Homo sapiens: one gene and its partners. The protein of the gene in region 2 binds, or shares a complex with, the protein of the main gene of each other region. Each region holds a gene or a part of one and is shown on either strand. Other genes may lie near its edges.

Region 1 (3,134 bases), on a different chromosome or scaffold from region 2:
TGGGAGTTTTAGAGAGCTGTGTCCCAAGGATGAAGGTGTGGCTGTGGGTCTGGCTAGGATTGAAGCCATCTGGACCTTTTCTAGATATGACTCCAGGACCCTTGAGTGTAATGCAAAAATTTGGAGACCAGCTATGCCTGCCCTCTGTGGGTGCCTTAGCATTGCGGGAGGGTGGTGCTTGGTCACCGTTGCATTTGTTATAGAAATGGCCATTCGCCATAAATCTGACTGCCTGTGTTTGTGTTGGTGGGGGTAAGGGGCAGTGGTGTGAAGGGACCAAAAGGGCCTCAGGCTCAAGGGGTGGGATGCGGCTCCTGCAGGAGAGAGGTTGAGACCTGGTCAAATTTATTTCCTATCAATCACTGAATCTCAGGGATAATGGGTCAACCCAGAACTGAGATGTCTGTATGACAGCCACTCCTAAAAATAAACAACAACAAAAACAAAAAAAGAAGAAAACTAAATAAAAATAAAAATAAAAATAAGATCCACTTCTCTCTGCCAAACGGCCAGAGCCCACAGCTCTATTGAGTTCTACATCAAGACACTTTATTGCTGGGGCCTCAGAGAACACTAGAGACTAGGGGCTGGTGGCCTCAAAGATCCAGGGGGGGTGAGTCCAAACTGGCGTTGCTGCTCCTTGTGCCTGGCGTGAAGTCTCAGTGCTGCCCCATCCCACTGCTGCTTGATGGCTCTCAGCTTGGCCAAGAGCCTGTCCAGACTGTCCTGCAGACATCAATATTTCAGACCCCAGAAAGAGAGAGAGGGAAGGAGTGAGTGCTGCCCCAGGTTGGTTCATAAGCTTTCCTTGCCCAGTAGACATGGTCGTATCCCCTCTGTCTGCCCTCAGGATAGAGCAGGGCTCCCTTGGAGACGCTCCTTCTCCTTAACCCTGGGTTGTCAGTCATCATACGAGCTGGGGTTTGTGGGCATGGGGGAGTCCTGGGTACTGGGATGGCTGGGATCCAGGGGGTGGTGCTTACGTGTAAGATTTCCTCATACTTCGCCTCCATGTCTGCCATGTGGGCCCGAAGCTGAGCCAGGGCCTGGTCCCGCTCTCCGAGAGCTTGTTCAGCCTCTTCCCGGGCAGCTGCAGCCTCCCTTTGGCATGCCTCTGGGGGCAGGCAGGATGAAAGAGAGCAGGATGGTGACACTCTATCCTTGACCAGTCTCTCCAAAGGTATCTGGAAAGGAGACCTCAAATGGGCTCGTTCCAGACTCCCCCAGCATCACCAAATTTCCCGCAGTCCCTGTAAAAGCTGAAGCTCCACTGAGGTATATAGCAGAGAGTGGCGGGCTTGAGATAGAAGGCTCCAAAGTCGGATTACTACCTAGGTGACCACATGCATGTCTCTTTCTGAGCCTTGGTGTCTTCATCTTTTTTTTTTTTTTTAGATGGAGTCTCACTCTGTCGCCAGGCTGGAGTGCAGTGGCGCGATCTCAGCTCACTGCAACTGCCACCTCCTGGGTTCAAGCAATTCTCCTGCCTCAGCCTCCCGAGTAGCTGGGATTACAGGCACATGCCACCATGCCCAGCTAATCTTCGAATTTTTAGTAGAGATGGGGTTTCACCATGTTGGCCAGGATGGTCCCTATCTCTTAACCTTGTGATCCGCCCGCCTCGGCCTCCCAAAGTGGTGGGATTACAAGTGTGAGCCACCGCGGCTGGCTGGTGTCTTCATCTGTAAAGAGAGAATGACACATCCCTCAGGGGCATGCTGTGACCTTTAAACATGATAAATGGATGACAAAGCACCTAGCTAGTATACAGGAGGTGCTCAGTAAACATTGATTCATTGGCCGGGTGCGGTGGCTCACGCCTGTAATCCTAGCACTTTGGGAGGCCGAGGAGGGCGGATTACCTGAGGTCAGGAGTCCGAAACGAGCCCGGCCAACATAGGTGAATCTCCATCTCTACTAAAAATACAAAAATTAGCCAGGCATGGTGGCGCACACCTGTAATCCCAGCTACTCGGGAGACTGAGGCAGGAGAATTGCTTGAACGTAGGAGGTGGAGGTTGCAGTGAGCCGAGATTTGCCATTGCACTCCAGAATGAGCGACCAGAGTGAAACTCCGTCTCAAAACAAAAAACAAAAAACAAAAAAATCCCCAAAACAACAACAGCAAAAACAAAAACAATTGAGTCATTGATTGACTTGGAATTTGAGGTAAAGCAAAGATTAGGAAAGGAACCCAGAGTCTGAATGGCAGATAAGCAGCTCCTGGCCATCTATAGCTAAACCGAAGGCCTTTTTTTTTTTTTTTTTAGTTGGAATCTTACTCTGTTGCCGAGGCTGGAGTGCAGTGGTGCGATCTCGGCTCACTGCAGCCTCCGCCTCCTGGGTTCAAGTGATTCTCCTGACTCAGCCTCCCAAGTAGCTGAGATTACAGGCACACGCCACCATGCTCAGCTAATTTTTGTAATTTTAGTAGAGATGGCATTTCACCATACTGGCCAGGCTGGTCTCAAACTCCTGGCCTCAAGCAATTCTCTTGCCTTGGCCTCCCAAAGTGCTGGGATTACAGGGGTGAGCCACCGCACCCGGTTGAAGGCATTTTTAAGGTATGAAAACTTTGAGACCAAAATTGTGAAAGAGCTCATGTGTCATGCTGAGATATTTCAACATTATTTTGTAAGCAAGAGACAAGAGAAGCAAAGGCTTCCTGGTTTTTAAAAATATTTTTGCTTATTAGGAGTGTTTATTCATTTATTTGGTGAACAGTTATTTAGGATCTACCAGATGCTAGGTCTTGAAGATACAGAAGTAAATAAGTCAAACATTTCCCCTTAGTTTCATTGTAGAAATCAGCTAAACTAAAAGGGAATATGTTTTGCTCACAAGAGACATGGCAGTGGTGGGGAGTTAGGGCTGGACTTGAGAGGAGGAAATGGGGTGTGAGGCCTACATCTTCTTTTTTATTTTTATTTATTTTTTTGAGACAGAGTCTTGCTCTGTTGCCCAGGCTGGAGTGCAATGGCGTGATCTCGGCTCACTGCAACCTCTGCCTCCTGGGTTCAAGCGATTCTCCTGCTTCAGCCTCCCGAGTAGCTGGGATTACAGGTGTGCGCCACCACATCCGGCTAATTTTTATATTTTTAGTAGAGACGGGGTTTTGCCATTTGGCCAGGCTG
Region 2 (3,338 bases):
AGTGGCCGTTTCCATTTGGCATGTCAGAGGGTTTTGGGAGGAAATGGCACTGGAACTAGGTGTTCCCAGGCAGATAAAATGGAGGTAAGGGCATTTCAGGAAATGACAGCATGGGGAAGGTCTGGTCTGTTCAAGAATCATCACAGGAGGTCTGGCTGGAGTGTCAAGGGCCTGGGAGGTGGCACTGGTGGGTGGGGAGCTAGCCAGGTCTTGGAGAGCCTTGCCCAATGTGCCCAAGATCTTTGTCTTTACCCGTTGGTGGGTGGGAGCCAGAAAAGGATTTGAAGCAGCCGAAGAGCCATGATTAGCCTTGCGTTTTAGAGAGATCATTGTGGCGTCAGGGAAGGGGCGAAGCTGGATACAGGGAAAGCATCAGGAGGCTTGTCCAGGTGGGAGGTGAGGATCCCCCAGATTAAGGCTGTCATGAGGGGATGGAGAGGACATGACTGAATTCAAGTGCTGTTTTGGATGTGTTGGTGCAAGAGATGGGCACAGTGATGAGCTGTAAAGCCAGTGAGGTAAACTGATTGGGAGAGAGAGGGGTGGATGAAGCACGGATTATGCCCTCACGAAGGTACCGGTGGTACCGAGGCAGGAACGTTGACAATAAGCATGCGTCCTTTCTGAGAACCTGCCACCGTCTAATAAACTTGGACTGCTGAGTGGGAAGGTGACAGGTGGGAAAGCAGTAGGCCTGTGACTGGCACTGCCTGGGGGCCTGGGTAGTACCCAATGGACATGACAATCACTGTGCTCTTGGCCTTCAGGGACTCGCGGGCCCCGCTGAGGGTACAGAAGAATGTGCGTGACAACTCCAAGGACTCGGAGTACTGGCAGGCCCTGACCACAGTGATCCCTTCCTCCAAGCAGAACCTCTGGGATGCCCTCTACACAGCCTTGGAGAAGTACCAGTAAGTGTGCATGTCATGGAGCAGGAGGGTGCTGGCGGGCAGGTGAGGAACGGTTGTTGGGAGCAGCCGCGTTTGCTGCCTCCCTGTCCCACTGAACCTGGGAGGGAAGAGCTGCCCTTGGCATCTCCTGTGTGGGTGGATCATGTGGGGCAGTTGGCTCTTGGGCCCTGGCCTGCCTGTTCTGTTCCTGCTAACCTGGCTCACCTGGCGGCTGGGTGAAGAGTGTAGCTTCTGGAGTCTCCCTCCACCTGTAGCCAAAGTACAACCACCAAGACCCTGGCCCCTACTTGGCAGAGGATGGAGGATTCAGTGAGCCTCTAACCGATTTTTCTGTCCAAAGCCTTGTCCTGACCCAGAGGGCCAAGCTGCTGCTGGAAAACAGTTCTCTGGAGCAGCAGAACACAGAGCTGCAGGCGCTACTGCAGCAGTATCTGAACTCCAAGGTGGGCGGCGGGGCCTTCCAAGGAGGGGCAGCGGGAGACACGGGTGGGGCAGGGGCACTGGAGCTGGGATTAGGGAACGAGGAGTCCCCTCCCCGTCAGAGGCAAGGGAGCTTTGTGATATGATGTAAAAAATCAAGAGTGGCACCTTGAGACAACTACTGGCCAAAGGAGTAGATCTTGCCTGAAGTCTCCTCCAGGACAGCTCAGGTGTGACAGTGTCTCTTTGATACTGTGGTTTCTGGTGCCAGTGGCCAGCTGGGACTGCTCTGTGTGAAGCAGTGCCACAGCCAGGAGCAGCTCCCCAGCTACAGAGCCTCCAGCTGTGCTCTCTTCTTCCATCCTCACACCCGCTGTGTGAGGTGGACAGGGCGGAAACAATGCTCCTCATTTCACACAAAGGACAATCACAACTTGCAGAGTTTGCAACTCGTCCAGAGCCTGGGCTCTTTCCACCCACCAGCCCCGGTTCCCTGCCTGGGATATGACTGGAGGGTCATCCTCGCATGGGGAAGGAGGCTCTGCTGGGGCAGATATTCCCTGGCCCCCATCTGTGCCCAACCCTGCAATAGTTGTGGACAACTTCCCCATGGCCTGGCAAGAGGAGGAAGGAAAAAGTCCATTGCTGACATTTCCTGCTCTGCGGGTGTGGGCACCTGCAGCTGGGGCTGTAGGCCAGGAAGGTCGTGACGCAGCTGTTAGTTGCACACGTGTGAGGTGACTGAGGCCAGCTCCAAGTCCAGCCACAGGGGCTGCGTGGCCCCAGCACAGTCCCAGGTCCCAGGCCACAGCTGAAAGTGGGATGTTGTAGTGAACCTTGGCCTCATAATGACCCTTGGCCTGTGACAGGACCCAGACATTCTGGACGGTATGGTTCCCGCTTCCACAGATGCTACTGTATACAAGAGGCTGGGGGAGGAAGAGGTGGGGCAGGCTAGATTGGGGATGGCATGGGTGCGTGGAGAGAGGAGAGGGGAAGACTGCAGAGAATGGACGGGCGGGAGATGAAGAACGCTACCAGAGGTCACAGCTGGAGCAGAAGCTGAGCAAGAAGGCTCAGGCGTGTCTCCTGCAGGGAGGCAGTCTGTGGGTGTTCAGCATCTCTCAGCTTTGGAGAGGAGATGCGTGCAGGGCTTTGGAGGCCCATGGGAGAGCCAGCGTGGCTCGCAAGGGTGGCAAAGAAGGAGGGCCCTGGGAAAAATGTAACGACTTTCACCCTTTCTTTTCCAGATCAACTCTGAACTGCAAGTTCCTCCCACTCAGGTGTTGCGGGTACCCACAAAATGAGCTGGACCGCCAAAGGCTGATGTGTTAGGGCTGGCCTGATGCTGGTGTCTGTGCCGGAGCCAGCTCATATCACCCACTGGGCCGCACCTGGGCCTGCTCTCTGGATTTTCCAGGGCTGTCTTTATAGCCTGTCGAAATAAGGAGCCAGAGGAGTTACCTGTGTCCTGCATTATGATTAAAGCCTTTTAAAGTTGTGGCTGAATCTCTTTAAAGAGGTCAGGTCTAGCAAGACCAGGCCCTTGCCCCTACCTCTGTGTCATGAGGGGACTTTGCCCCAGGCTCAGATAGTGGTGTGAGTCAGAGGCCGAGGCCAGTAGCGTGGGGCTCCTTTCTTGCTTTCAGGGGAACTGGTTTCTGTGGGTGGAGGCTAGAGCTTTTGGGCCCTTGTGGGGCCTTAAGCCTTCAGACTGGCCCCAGACCTGAAGGATTCTTTCGGTGCTTTGGGGGCCCCTGGGCCCAGGCTGGTGTGCCCTTTGGGCTATGGTGTAAGACTCCTCCTGTGGGCAGCCTGGGTGGGCAGCCCTGTGCCTGAGGCCTGCCTTGAACCCTGGGCCACCAGAGGCCACTTGAAGGGGAAAGGCCATGGGAGCCCTGCTGGTACTGAATCTGCCAGCCTAGAGAACTGCTGCCTCTGCCCCGCACCTGCGGCTGCTCCTCTCAGCTTGACCAGTGCAGACCTGTCAGCTCAGTGCTTGACTTC
Region 3 (7,046 bases), on a different chromosome or scaffold from region 2:
TTAGTAGAGACGAGGTTTCACCATGTTGGCCAGGCTGGTCTTGAACTCTCTTTTTTTTTTTTTTTTTTTTTTTTGAGACAGAGTCTTGCTCTGTTGCCCAGGCTGGAGTGCAATGGTGCGATCTCAGCTCACTGCAACCTCCGCCTCCCGGATTCAAGCCATTCTCCTGCCTCAGCCTCCTGAGTAGCTGGGATTACAGGTGCCCACCACCACGTCCGGCTAATTTTTTGTATTTTTAGTAGAGACGGGGTTTCACTATGTTGGCCAGGCTGTACTCGAACTCCTGACCCGTGATCTGCCCACCTAAGCCTCCCAAAGTGCTGGGATTACAGGCGTGAGCCACCGCGACTGGCCCATTTATCTTCATTTATGTTTCATTTAGTCCTGAATGAAAACATTAGGTGGAGCCAGGCACAGTGGCTCACACCTGTCATCCCAGCACTTTGGGAGGCTGAGGCGGGCGGATCACTTGAGGTCAGCAGTTCAAGACCAGCCTGGCCAACATGGTGAAACCCTGTCTCTACTAAAAATACAAAAAAATTAGCCAGGCGTGGTGGCGGGCACCTGTAGTCCCAGGTACTCGGGAGGCCGAGGCAGGAGAATCGCTTGAACCCAGGTGGCAGAGGTTGCAGTGAGCCAAGATCATGCCACTGCACTCCAGCCTGGGTGACAGGGTAAGACTCTACCTCAAAAAAAAAAAAAAAAAGAGAGAGAGAAAATATTATGTGGAAATTTTAGAAAACACTGATGAGAAGAAAACAGAAATATCACCCATATTCCTTGGTCCAAGGATCCAACAGACCAAGGCCCATATTCCCACAACCTAACAGAAACAGAAGTAGTTTGGTTGTGTTTAGTGTTTGCTGTTGTGTTTGCTGTTGCATTTTTTTGTTTTTTGTTTTTGTTTTTGTTTTTTTTGAGATGGAGTCTTGCTCTGTCACCCAGGCTGGAGTGCAGTGGTGCAATCCTGGCTCACTGCAACTGGAACAGGAATTAAAAGAAATTAAAAAGTGTGTAAGCAGAAACTCAGTTATATATAAGAAAACCCAACTCCCCCTGAAAAAGAGAAAGAGCTGGAGTCCTTTAAAAATTAACTGCCTGTTTTTCTGCGGCTAGTGAGCCTTGTCTCTCCTCCCTTCCCAGGCATTGTGAAGACCCTGATTCTGTAGCTGTGCGGCTGCAAGGTCACTAGGCAGATAAACTCAAGTCGCAAAACATGTTTTTCCTTAAAAAGTAAGAAATGATGTAATGCATGTTTCAACTGAACAACTGCCTTTATTTCTCACATCTGAAGCATGCTTCCCCCTGCACAGATCTCCCTCTGCCCCACGAAAAGCTTAAAAGGTAACTTAACTCTTTGTTCAGGGCTCAGTCCTTTGGATTTTAATCTGACTGGGCCGGTGCACCTAAATAATTAATAAATATCCTCCTGAACCCCATCGGTCTCTCTAATTCCTTAAAAATCCCACTACACAACCTCTACCTTCCAGGTTCAAGAAATTCTCCTGCCTCAGCCTCCCAAGTAGCTGGGACTATAGGTGCGTACCACCACACCCGGCTAATTTTGTGTGTGTGTGTGTGTGAGTGTGTGTGTGTGTGTATTTTTAGTAAAGACAGGGTTTCACCATGTTGGCCAGGCTGGTCTCCAACTCCTGGCCTCAAGTGATCCACCCACCTTGGACTCCTAAAGTGCTGGGTTTACAGGCGTCAGCCACTACACCCTGCTTTTTTTTTTTTTTTTTAAGAGACGTGTTGCCAGGCTGGAGTGCGGTGGTGCGATCTCGGCTCGCTGCAACCTCCGCCTCCCAGGTCCAAGTGATTCTCCTGCCTCAGCCTCCCGAGTAGCTGGAACTACAGGCACACGCCACCACACCCAGCTAATTTTTGTATGTTTAATAGATATGGATTTTCACCATGTTGGCCAGGATGGTCTGGATCTCCTGACCTCATGATCCGCCTGCCTCGGCCTCCCAAAGTGATGGGATTACAGGCGTGAGCCACCGCGCCCAGACTCCTGGCCTAGTTTGGTAGTTTCTTTCATAGTCGGTTTTCAGAAGACCCTTCCTGGGTCAGAAAACCCATCTACTTAAATTTAATTCGTAATGTACTGCTCTCTTTTTAATCCCTCCACTCCAAGAAGGCTACCTCATCACAAAGCCCTGAAGGCAGTGGAGGAAGGTTCAGCATTACTTAGCATTTGGGACCTTCACAGCCAGCTGCAGGGACTTGGTGGGGCTCCCAGAGCTTTCCTCCCCCCACCAGCTGAAACCCACCCTGCCACACCTGCCCAGAAATTGAGTTACTGACAATTCCTGTACCACAAAGGGAGAGCCCTTTACAAGAGAAAGACAGACATGGAGCTGATGAGGCCACGAGCTCCGCCTTCCTCTTCTCGGTCTGGGCCTGACTCCTGCCAGGCTTTCCAAGGGAACAGTGGTTCCTGTATCCCAAGGTTGTGCCCTGGGCACTCCAAGGGCACTGGACCTGTCCGGGCCTCCTTGGTGTAGAGGGATCTCTAGCCACTCTGGTGTGCCCCAGGCTCTCCATCCGGGAGACCAAAGGTCTTAGGGTAATTCCTGCCTCCGGCTCTATTCCATGGGGACCCTGGTGCTCTGCAAAGCCTCGTGAGCTGAAACCCTAGGTCCCAGGGATCCAACAGACCGAGTCTGCCATTCCAGGATGAGAGTCCCCTTGACGCATGTTCACTCTTCTGGGGACCGTGCGCCGCCGACCCCGGGCCCTGGGCGTTCTATGACCACCCCTGTGAGCACAGGGCTCTGGACAGCCCAGGTCTCAGTCCCGAGTGCTGCCAGGCCCCGGGGCCGGGAGCATCCTGAGTTTGCCCCACGGAGACCCCCACAAGAGCACCGAGCTCTCAATTCCAGAAACCCAGCGCTCCAGGCCTCCCATTCCCAGGGTCTCCGTGTACCGAGGCCTCCCTGCCCCGAGGTCTCCGGGCCCCTGCCGAGGACCCCAGCCCCGCTCCCGCCCCTGCTCACCATGACGCCAGCGGACAGGCCCAGCGGCGACTCCGGGACCAGGGCGCCCGCCCCCGGAAGCCACGCCGTTTCCCGGCAACCGCTGGGCGATGCCGCGATAAGTCACAAGATCCTCGCGAGACTCCGCCGGGCAGCGGCCCTGCCAAAGGCGGGAGTGCGTCCCTAGAGACGGGCGTCCGGAAGGAACCCGGTTGTGAACGTTGGGAAAATGTCGCCGGCAGCCCAGAAGCCTTTCGCTGCAGGGCATGTTTTGCTTATTGCTGGAACCTAAGCTCCACGAGGGGGGAACCCTTCACTTCTATCCTTCAGCGCCTAGAACAGCACACAGCACGTGCTCAGTAAAGACGTGCTGATGAAGGACCATTGAAGGAATGATCAATCAGCCACCCAAGCCTCTGAAACTTTCCCCAAATGAGATTCAAATCTGGGCAAACACTCTATCCCCTGGGCCTCACTCACCCCACCCGCCCACCTTTGAAGGGCCCTCCCAGCTGCTGCGCTGGTGGGTTTACACACACCTCAAAAACGCAGAAATCGGAAAGAAAAATACGTTCCAGTTTAGTTCCAAATGTTTGAAATCAGTAAGTATTCCTTTCACAAAAATAAACTGCTCTTCCTGAAGAGGCCTCCTCCCCACTCCTCACGGATGAAAAGAAACCAGAGGCTTCCCGACAGGCCCTGCAGAAAACAAACAGCTGCCACTTTCCTTTTCTAACTAATCTCTTGTTCTGAAAACTGCTAGCCATTTTACAATTTCTAAAATGAATCTGCCATCCGTGAAACCACCCTGTTACCTACATACAACCATCTATGTCACCCAGAAAGCTGAGTTTGTCATAAACAGGTGCTTTTTTTTTTTTTTTTTTTTGGAGACAGGGTCTCCTTCTGTCGCCTAGGCTGTGATCACAACTCACTGCAGCCTCGACCTCCTGGGCTCAAGCAATCCTCCCACCTCAGCCTCCTGAGAAGCCAGGACTACAGGTGTGAGACACCATACCCAGCTTTTTTTTTTAAGTTTTTAATAGAGACGGGGTCTTGCTTTATTGCCCAGAGTGGTCTCAAACTCCTGGCCTCAAGTGATCCTCCTGCCTCGGCCTCCCAAAGTGCTGGGAGCACGTGAGCCCCACGCCCAGCCCTAAGCTCTCATCTTTAACATCTTCTTAAAAAGTGGTCATCTACTTGGGAGGTTGAGGTGGGAGAATCGTTTGAGCCCTGGAGGTGGAGGTTGCAGTGAGCCAAGATCACACCACTTCACTCCAGCCTAGGTAACAGAATGAGACCTGAGACCCTGTCTCAAAAAAAAAAAGAAAAGGTCTTGTAGCAGATCTTGTTCTCCCATGTGTCTGGGGATGAAGAGTACAGAATCCATGCTCGTAGAAAGTTGTGCTGGGGGCAAAGTGTGAGAAATGAAAGAAGGCCTGGTGGACCTAGGTCTTCCTGTCCAGCTGGGGGAGGAAGTTGCCACATGAGCTGGGTTTGCTCAGGCCTCAGGCACCCACACAGTGGTGGGAATCTGAGAACCACTGTGATGAGAGACTTCCTGTTTGCCCACCTAAGTCCTGATTGTTCTTGGAGAGGAGCAGCCAGTTGGAAGAACTGCATTGGCTCAGCTTGCACAAAGCAGTGATTTATTTATAGTAAGCCCTGAGGCCTCTGTGAAGTCTGGCTGGTCACTGTGCCTGGGCAACCAGGAGCCAGCATCACTGTGCCAGACTCCCTTGGCCTGAGAGGGGCCTCCTCCCCCTGGGACAGGGTGGTCAGACAGTGACGCTGGAGAGCACAGTGGGGGTAATTATTATAATTTAACACTTACTTCACAAAACCAATATGCTAGCAGCTTCATGCTGATTGGCTTTTTGCTTCAGAAGTCTGGATGAGTGTCCTGAATTAAATAGCTGTATTAACAATAATTCCTTTCAGCAAAAAGGGCAAGAATAGGAGGGTTAGCTCAGGATAGCCTAGACAGGGTACTCATTTTTCACAAGCTAAGAGCAATCCTGGTCTGTCGGTGTGGGCTGCAGAGATGAATCATTCAGGGAGCCCTGAATTGCGGCTCCCTGGGATCCCGACAGGGCCCACTGCGACCTGTTCTTTTCATATTGAATTCGAGTTCAGATTTTTAGAAAAGAGCCTTTTCTTCACATATGTGGCTTAAGATACTTTCATTCAGTGTCAAGCTGTGCAGCTCAGAAACCCAGATAAATGGCATCTGAGTTTCCTGCAAAATCCCAGAGCAAATGTTAATACAAACAAACCGACTGCCCTCTGTCTGATGTCTGATGCTTCCTGCCACCCACTATCCACCAGGTAAACCGCCTCAGGCCACGGCATCAACTCAGTGAAGGCCTGGATGCTGGGTTAACAAGAGTGTTTATGAAGACTAGACTTTTTCTTTTCTTTTCTTTTCTTTTTTTTTTTTGAGACATACAATCATAGCTCACGGCAGCCTTGGACTCCTGAGCTCAAGCTGTGCTCCCACCTCAGCCTCCCAAAGGGCTGGGATTACAGGCATGAGTCAATGCTCCTGCAAACGGACTTTCTTTGAGAGATAAATATTGAAGTACTTACAAATGCAATGATCTAATGTGTATATAATTTGCTTCAAAATGACCCAGCAGTGGAGGGAAGTGAATGAGGACAGAGAAGCAGTGGCCCAGGCCAGGAGCTGGCAATCGCTGAATCTGGGCGATAGGGACATGGGGGTCAGTTTCATCGAAACTGCCTTGGCGCTCTCTGCAGCCCGGGCCCGCCGCCCTCTCCTTACCTCCCATCCCCCATCCCGCCCCTTCCAGCCTCCCAAGCACACGCCCTCGCCCCCACCCGCCCCCCGCGTTAATTCGCGCCATCCAGGGCGCTCTGTGAGTCTGTCATTACCCAGCGCGAGTCAGGCCCCTCCTGTGCCCCTCGCCAGCCCCGAGGGGCGCCCGCACACAGTCGGCGCCCCACACGCAAGTACCTGGAAGAGAACAAGAGGACGCCAGCGGGCGCGGCCGCCAAGTGAGTGCGCAGGAGCCCCGGACGCCCGGCCGGGGTCGGGAGGGCGCAGCCAGGTCCCGGTGGTGTCCGCGGCGGGGCGCGGCCCGCGAGGGAAGGGTCGGCGGGGGAGGGGTCCGCTGGGCCAGGGGCCAGCAGGGGGCGCGCGCGGGCCGGGGCGGGGCCGCACCTGTCCTGCGGCTGGGGGGGCGCCGGGAGGGGGCCGGGGCCCGGGAGCAGCTGCGCGCCCCGCCCCGCCCCGCGGGCTCCTCCCTGCCGCCGCGGCCCCCCGGTTGCTGCCCCGATGCGCTGCGCCCGGAGCCGGGGCCGAGTCGCTGCCGCAGCTGTTGGGGCGCCCGGGCCAGGCGACGCCGCCGTCGCCCGTGCCCCTCCCAGACCGCACCGGCCGCATGGAGCCCCCGGAGGGCGCCGGCACCGGAGGTGAGTTCAGCCCCAGCCCCCGAGACCCCCGCGCAGCGCTTCCCCGCAGCGAGCCGCAGCCCCTCCCCCCAGGGCTCACCCTTCGCCGCTCCCGGGAGTCGCGAAGACCCCTTTGGCAGCTCGGGGTCGTCCGGCGGGCCAGGGGCACCTCCCGGGCGCGGTCCCCGCGCGGGGCTGGGGGCACACGGACCGAGTCTCCGCCCCCTTGTTCTCTGCGCTCCCGGCCCGGGAAGCCGTGCCCGGCACGCTCCTTGGTGGGTGGCCCGGAGTTTCGTCCTGAGCCCCCTCCCAGCCAAGCCAGCCGGTGACCCGGGGAGCGGGGGAGGGGGGTTCCGGGGCTGGAGTTTGGGGTCCCTGTCGGTGGGGCGTGAGGGCGACGCTGGCCGCTTGCAAGCGCGTCCGCTTTGTTCGCCCAGCCGCGAGTCCCGGGGGGCGAGGGCCGTAGACTCGCGGGCAGGGATCCTGCCAGGGGCGAGGGGCTGAGATGGGTCTTGGGGATGTGGGGCATGCACGGGCGCGGCCTGCCGGGGACTCCAGAGCTGCAAGGGTGGCTGGTCCGGGAGTGGCCCAGGCGCACGCTCATCGGGGAGGGTAGGTGCGCGTGGAGCGCTCCCTGCCCTGATGGTGGAGGCC
Region 4 (7,630 bases), on a different chromosome or scaffold from region 2:
ATCAAAACCATCCTGGCCAACATGGTGAAACCCCATCTCCACTAAAAATACAAAAATTAGCTGGGTGTGGTGGCGTGCACCTGTAGTCCCAACTACTCAGGAGGCTGAGGCAGGGTAATAGCTTGAACCCAGGAAGCCGAGGTTGCTCTGCTGAGATTGCGCCACTGCACTCCAGCCTGGGCAACAGAGCAAGACTCTGTCTCAAAAAAAAAAAACAAAAAACAAAAAACAAAAAAAAAATTTTAACCTAAATGATAATTAAAATGCAAAGTGTCAAAATTTGTGAAGAGCAGCTAAAGTTGTACTTAGAAATTTATATCTTTGAATGTTTACATTAGAAGGAAAAAAAGGTTAAAAAACAGTCATCTAAGTTTCCGCCTAACAATATGAGCAAACTAAATCCACAATAAGTAGAAAAAGGAAATAACAAAGAACAGAAAACAATGAAATAGAAACAAACATTAAAGAAAATTACCAAAGCCAACATGACCAAGTAAGGTTTATCCCAAAAAAGCAACGTTGATTTACTATTGGAAAATGCAATGTAATCTACCACATAACAGTTCATAAAGTGAGAAACTATATGATTATCTCAATAATTACCAGAAAAAACAAAAAGCATTTGACAAAATTTGTCCCCATTCAGGATAAAAACCCTCGGGAAACCAGAAACCAAAGGGAGCTTTCTCAATCTGATAAAGGGAACTACAAAAAAATGTAAAGTTAACATCATACTTAATGGTCAGAGACTGGTCCTAAGATCAGGAACAAATGGCAAGGAGGCGTGCTATCTCACTTTTGCTCAGCCTGGAACTGCCTGTCCTCACCAGAGCAATAAGGGGGAAAAAATACATAAATGATACAAAACTACAACAACAAAAATTGTTCCTATTTATAGTTAATACATTGCTAACATCAAAAATTGTAAGGGAGGAAACCCTAGTAGAATAAATAAGTTTAGCTAGGTCTCAGAAGACAAGGTTAATATACAAAAATTATTTCTACCTACTAGCAGTGTATTTTTACATACTAGCAGCAAACAACTGGAAAACTTTAACCATAATTCCACTGACAATGGCATCAAAAAATAAAAGACTTAGGAAAACATTTAACAAAAAACATGCAAGATCTGGCTGGGCACGGCGGCTCATGCCTGTAATCCTGGCACTTTGGGAGGTCGAGGCAGGAGGATCGCCTAAGGCCAGGAGTTCAAAACCCACCTGGACTCTGTCTCAACAAAAAATAAAAAATTAGCCAAGTGTAGTGGCGCATACTTGGGAGTCCCAGCTACTTGGGAGATTAAGGCAGAAGGATCATTTGAGCCCAGGAGTTCAAGCCTGCTGTGAGCTATGATTCTGCCACTGCACTCCAGCCTGAGTGACAGAGCAAGACTGTCTCAAAACAAAACAAAAAAAAAAAAGAGAGAGAAAAGAAAACAGAAGAAAAAATGCAAGATCTATACATTTTTGCTGAGAAAAATTATGCATCACCTCAATAAATGGAGAAACATACATTATGTTCATGGATTGAAAGACTTGATACTGTTAGATGTCAATTATCTCCAAATCATCTATAGAGTAAATGCAATCCCAATCATAAACCCATCAGGCTTTTTTGAAGAAACTGAGAAGCTGACTCTAAAATTTATATGGATCTGTCTTTGAGCCTCCCCCTGCCAAAAAATAAATAAATTTATATGGAAATATAAAAGCCTTAAAATAGCCAAAATCATTTTGAAAAGGAAGAACAAAGCAGGAATGCTTACAATAACAATACTGTCTGATTTCAATATTTATTACAGAGGTACATAATCCAGGCAACTGAATACCCATATGGGGCAAAAAAAAAAAAAAAGGATATTGATCCCCTATCTCACATCATATATAAAAATTAATTTCAGATGAATCATAATCCTAAAAGTGAAGGCTTCTAGAACACAGGAGAATATTTTTATGACCTAGGGGGTATTTAAAGATTTCTTAGAAAGGACATCTGTTGGTGAGGATATGCAGCAACCATAACTAATATTTTGTTGATGGGGGTGTAAAATGGTAGAGTATTTTGGAGAAAGGGTTAGTATTTTTTATAAACATTCACCTACCCTTGACCCAGTAATTTCACCCCTAGGTATTTATCCAAGAACAATGAAAACATATATCCACAAAAATTACTGTACAAGAATATTGACAGCAGCTTTATTTATAATAGCTAAAATCTGGAAGAAACCAAAATACCCATCTTTGAACAAGATAACGGAAAAACAAATTGTGATATAAGTATTCAATGGAATACTCAGCAATTCAAAGGAATAAATTACTATCACATACAACACGAATCTCACAGACATAATGCTGAGCAGATGCCAAATACAGAGGAGTACATACCATATAATTCCATTCAATACACGAAGCTCTAGAATTGGCCAAACTAATCTAGTATTTAAAAAAAAAACAATTAGAAAACTAGTTGCCTGGGGTGGGCAGGAGACTGGCACAGGACAGGAGGGAACGTCTGGAGATGTGGGAACGTTCTATGTTGTGATGGGTTGTATGCTTTATGTGGATGTGCATGGATACATTTGTGGCATTTCAATATATGTAAATTTTACCAAAAAACTTCAAAAGAACAGTAACTCAAGTAGGGGGCTGCGGAATGGCTGAAAGTATATGAAACAAGAATGGCGGAACCTTAAAGCTAGGTGTTAAAGCTAGGTGATGGGTCCATGCGGGTTCATTAAATTATTCTGATGTTGTTTGTACCGGCGTAATAAAAGGTAAAAACAAAACTTACAGGCTTTAGTTGAGAACCAGTTAAAAAGTAAAACTGTTTTGTAGCTCCCCAACACCACCAAAACCAAAAAAGTTATGTAATTTCCTGTAGCATTGAACAGAGGTATAGTCATTAGCGTAACTACAGTGAACACTGTAGCTCCTGGCTATACTCCGTGTCCAGGTTAAAACAAGGAGAATAGTGAGGACGACAGGGTATTTATATACTCTATGAGGAACTAGCGAAACGTATTAGGGACCAGGACTCTTTCTCTTATTTTAATCCAAATTAAAAGAGAGAAGTGCAGGGTTTTGTGGGAAATTTTTTTTAAAGAATTCAGCGAAAATGCAGCATGATAAAAGCTGCAAAAAAGCTATAAACTCCGAAGTTAATATTTTGGCTCACTTGGTTATGAAGAGTATGCATGTAACATTTTGGGAAATTACCATAAAAATGAGTGTCTTTAGATTTCTGGGCTGAATTGAACATGTGTAGGTGTATCAGCATGCAGCCCTGCCCCAGGTACTCTCCCTTTCTCAAAGAATATGGATTATCGTGGACCCACCTCTGACCTAAATACTGTGAAGGAATCAAAGTATGAAACACAAACCTTATCCCACGGAACCTTATAATCTAACTGCAAAGGCAAGATACGCCTAAAAAATAAGCCATTATCCCATAGCAGTACTTGGTTAAATGCCAGGAGGGAGTACAGACACGATGTACTTTTTAATGAAAAGAATATTGCGCTGTGGTGGTTTCAGCAGGCTGCCTTGAGGTTAGGGAATTTGAAATGAGACAAAGAATTTAAGCAGAGAGAAAAATGGGATGGGAGGCGGGCAGGCACTTCCAGAGCAGAGGAACCGGGTAAAGCAAACAAAGTGACGACATAACGTGAAAAGAAACCTGAATTTTGTCTCCAGTGAGCCCCCAACGTCCCACCAACGCCTCTATCTGGCTCTCCGTTCAATGTCTTCCCGAAACTTCAGGTCAGCGGTTCCTAAAGTGGTCCCCGGACAAGCATATCTCACCAACCAGCTGGGAACGTAAACTGTCAACTCTGGGGACTCATCCCAGACCTACTGAGTCACTAAGTGGGGGACTGAGGGCGGCAATCCGTGTTGTACCATGTGCGTCGGGTGACTGTGATGCACGCTCAAGTTTGAAAACCACTCCTCGAGGGCTACTGCTAAGCACAACCCTCCGCACAGAAGTGATACTGTTCTGAGCGCCTAACAGCCAACTTGCAGGGTGTAGGGAGCTGAGAGCGGGTCCCAGGCCTGTAAGAGTCAGGCTCTGCCCCAATTTCGCTTTCTCATCCAGGACACCTTCTCCCAGTCACTATCTCCTACGCCTGCTCCTTCTGGGTGACTTTACCCTGAGAGGGCCCGCTCCCGCCCATGTCGCCCTACCTCAGTGTCAGAGGGGACGTGGTGCCGGCAGGGAGGGGAACTGCCCAAGGAGACGGGAGTAGATGTGGCGCTGGCCCGGAGCCCGCCCAACAGGAGTAAAACGCTTCGGACCCACACAGACCCGCTCCAGCGCCACCGGCTCCGGCCCGGGCCTGAGCCCGAGTAACCCACTCCTCCGCCCCATTCGGCCGCCATCTTCGGGCCGAGCGTCGTTACCATGGAGTGCGTGACGCCTCTGCGCCCGCGCCGGCCCCGCCCCTCGCCGCTGGGGGTAGACGGAGGGCCCAGCCGGCGGAAAGGCGCTTTCCGATTGGACAGCGTCACCCGCTAGAAGTTCGCCGCAGAAGATGAGGGCGGCGATCACGTCCATCGCGTCTCGTGGCGCGAAGCCGGCCAATAAATGCTGTTTGGAGGCCCACGTGAGTGGGGCTGTGGGAGGAAGAAAGGCTAGCGGGCGTTGGCCGTATGTGGGTGTCTTGAGGCAGTTTTTCAGTTCTTTCATTTACCAAAGTGACATGCACCTACTAGGTGCCAGGTGTTTAGACGTACATACAACCCTCTGCAAAATCTTTCAGTGTAGTCCTCTGTATGAAAAGGTGAGTGGAATACTTTCATTTACTTATCCTGAGTCACCAACTTTAGGCCCATTACTTAACTAACGCCATTTCCTATAAAAATCTATGATACACCGTTTACTGTTTTACTCAACTCCATCTTTTAGTTTCCAGCCAAGAATTGCCACTGCACCTGAGATAAGGGGGATCCTGGCCATTAAGGAAACCTTGCCTTCGAAACTGAGCCGTGAGGAACTATACAAAATGGGAAATTGGGACAAATCCCAGTGGCTCATGACACTAAGAAGTAAAATTACGAACTCACTGAGCTGGAAGTCATTCAACGGGAATTGAATAGGTAAGCTACTATACTGGGAAATGAAGGAGTAGGAAAGAAGGAAAACCTCAAGTTACAAACTATGGGTGGAGATTCAGCTACGAGGATGGGGTGGTGTTTTAAGTATTACCATTTTACAAGTAAATACTCACTAAATGTGTGTATCATCCCACAACTAGTGGAAGGTGGGATTCCAAACCACATTTGTAACTTAGGAAACGTGCCCTTTCCACTACAATACCACAAATAAATTGCTATTGTGAATAAAGAATGGAACCAGTCATCCTAAGCTCCTGGCTGTAACAATAGTGTTATGCTGAGGAAAGGCTGTTTCTTTTTTTTTTGAGACGGAGTTTCACTCGTCGCCCAGGCTGGAGTGCAGTGACACAATCTCGGCTCAATGCAACCTCTGCCTCCCGGGATCAAGCTATTCCCCTGCCTCAGCCTCCCGAGTAGCCGGGATTACAGGCACCCGCCACCACGCCCGGCCAATTTTTATGTTTTTAGTAGAGACGTAGTTTCACCACGTTGGCCAGGCTGGTCTCAACCTCATGACCTCAGGTGATCCGCCCGCCTCCGCCTCCCAAAGTGTTGGGATTACAGGCGTGAGCCACCGCGCCCAGCCAGGAGGCAAAGCTGTTTCAATGGTGTAGTGGACAAGTTACCAGCCACGCAAGCCCTTTCCTGTAAACCACAGGACTCCTCCTTTGGCAACGGTGACTTGAGTACTTTTGACTTAATTTCCATATGGGAGGAGAAAAACATAAAAACATACATTTATTATTTACAAATGCTGCATCATCTCAGTAAGGAAGAGCATGTATTTGCTTTTGAGTCTCATTTGCCATTGCACATGTAAGTTACTCGAGTTAAAGTCTCAACCGTTTGTTTTCCCCCGCTTTGCTCAGATGCCTACCACTTACCGTGTGTCTGTTCCACTCAGAATACCATCCACTTCTCCATATGCCTAACCCAGACCTGAAATACCCATCTGTCTTCATGGATATGTCCACAGGTTAACATCTTACAGCTTCCTCAAATTCAACTTTAGCTCCTCCCACAAAACCATCTCCTGATTCCCCAACTTTGTAAATGCACCATTATCCATCCAGCCCCCAAAGCCAGAAACATGTTAGAATTCTCCATTTGAGACTGAAAAGCCCACCTAATTTTCCCTTGTTTATGCTGGGATGCCATTGGGATTTGAAATAATCTGAGCTGGTGGCTCATATCTGTAATCCCAGTACTTTAGGAGAACAAGGCAGGGGGATCACTTGAGGCCAGGAATCGAGACCAGCCTGGGACCCCGAAAAAACATTTTAATTGGCTGGACGTGCCTGGCATGCACCAGATTCTCTGGAGGTTGTGGGCAGGGGATTGTCTGAGCCTAGAAGTTCAAAGGTGCAGTGAGCTATGATCACACCACTGCACTACAGGCTGGGCAACAGAAACCCTGTCTCAAATGAGTAAATTTTAAAATTTCCTGTGAATCAAGTTCTTCAGTGACGTTGTATTACACTCAAGAACAATCTTAAGCCTAAGATCCTCAGTTCAGTACAGGAGACCTCTCATGTGGCATTTTAGTTTTCTGGACTTTCCAGTCAGCCACTTGTGTTCCTAAAATCTTCCTGCCATTTCCTCTTTGAGATGCCGCCCTATTTCTTCCTCTACACTTTACGGTTTTATGTTACGCAGCCAGTATACCTACATGCCTCTATCCCTGAATACCCCGAGTACTACTGATCACATCTACTTAACTGGCACAATGAACACAGTAGGTACTTTTAGCTTATGTTGGCCTTTTGGAGTGGGTGTCCAAGATCAGCACTTCCTCGCGCTGACTGCGTAATTCCCAAGTTCAATTTCATTAGCATTCTAATATACAACTTCCAACTTCCGGCCTTGAAGTACTGCTCACTTCTGGTGAATACAGCATCAGTGCACTTTGTTTGCCTTAAAACCACAATCCTGGGAGGCTGAGACAGAATGGCGTGAACCCGGGAGGCGGAGCGTGCAGTGAGCCAAGATTGCGCCACTGCACTCCAGCCTAGACGACAGAGCAAGACTGTCTCAAAAAAAAAAAAAAAAAAACCACCACAATCCTAATAAATGAGCCTGGCAGAGTACTAACACAAGCCCATGTCCACGAAGCACGGGACTCCAACAATGGCAGCTTTGGCTTGCATACCACCATTGGACTGACCAAACCTTTCTTAGAACTGCCAGTGTGACAGAGGGACCTCTGGGGGAGGGCGTCTTGCTTTCTCTTGGGTCAGTATATCTCACTACCCTCTTTGTAGGTTAGCAGATTTGTAACAGGATGTTACTGGAGGAAGGGGAAGTGGGAAAGCTGGACAGTATTCCCACTCTTTTCCCTTACTACAAAAACTTTCCTTCTCAGTCCTGTCTCCAGGAGATGGAAGACCAAATAACACAACAGCCAGTGTGCTTTTCCTACCCAATCCTTTCTTTCACCCTCTTATCCTAATACATTTCCAGCATGTTAATTCTTTTGCAGCATAGACAAGAGAACCCATACACGCTGCAAAACTGCAAAA

The links.
Region 1: DRC1 (region 2) and DRC12 share a complex: the UniProt entries of both Homo sapiens proteins name them as parts of the nexin-dynein regulatory complex.
Region 3: DRC1 (region 2) and DRC4 share a complex: the UniProt entries of both Homo sapiens proteins name them as parts of the nexin-dynein regulatory complex.
Region 4: DRC1 (region 2) and DRC9 share a complex: the UniProt entries of both Homo sapiens proteins name them as parts of the nexin-dynein regulatory complex.

The regions. Positions count from the first base shown.
Region 1 is NC_000011.10:119,189,727-119,192,860, forward strand, and holds the end of DRC12 (dynein regulatory complex protein 12), read right to left. Parts: intron 1,115-3,134; coding exon 984-1,114; intron 916-983; exon of another isoform or gene 841-915; intron 727-840; coding exon 574-726; 3' UTR 528-573; downstream 1-527. UniProt on the Homo sapiens protein: Component of the nexin-dynein regulatory complex (N-DRC), a key regulator of ciliary/flagellar motility which maintains the alignment and integrity of the distal axoneme and regulates microtubule sliding in motile axonemes.
Region 2 is NC_000002.12:26,453,880-26,457,217, forward strand, and holds the end of DRC1 (dynein regulatory complex protein 1), read left to right. Parts: intron 1-767; coding exon 768-911; intron 912-1,251; coding exon 1,252-1,354; intron 1,355-2,581; coding exon 2,582-2,638; 3' UTR 2,639-2,832; downstream 2,833-3,338. UniProt on the Homo sapiens protein: Component of the nexin-dynein regulatory complex (N-DRC) a key regulator of ciliary/flagellar motility which maintains the alignment and integrity of the distal axoneme and regulates microtubule sliding in motile axonemes.
Region 3 is NC_000016.10:90,018,678-90,025,723, reverse strand, and holds the start of DRC4 (dynein regulatory complex subunit 4), read right to left. Parts: upstream 3,045-7,046; 5' UTR 3,003-3,044; coding exon 3,000-3,002; intron 1-2,999. UniProt on the Homo sapiens protein: Component of the nexin-dynein regulatory complex (N-DRC), a key regulator of ciliary/flagellar motility which maintains the alignment and integrity of the distal axoneme and regulates microtubule sliding in motile axonemes.
Region 4 is NC_000003.12:197,956,992-197,964,621, reverse strand, and holds the start of DRC9 (dynein regulatory complex protein 9), read left to right. Parts: upstream 1-4,630; 5' UTR 4,631-4,777; intron 4,778-4,902; 5' UTR 4,903-5,093; intron 5,094-7,630. Other genes in the region: LMLN (leishmanolysin-like peptidase), read right to left, coding at 4,182-4,400. UniProt on the Homo sapiens protein: Component of the nexin-dynein regulatory complex (N-DRC), a key regulator of ciliary/flagellar motility which maintains the alignment and integrity of the distal axoneme and regulates microtubule sliding in motile axonemes.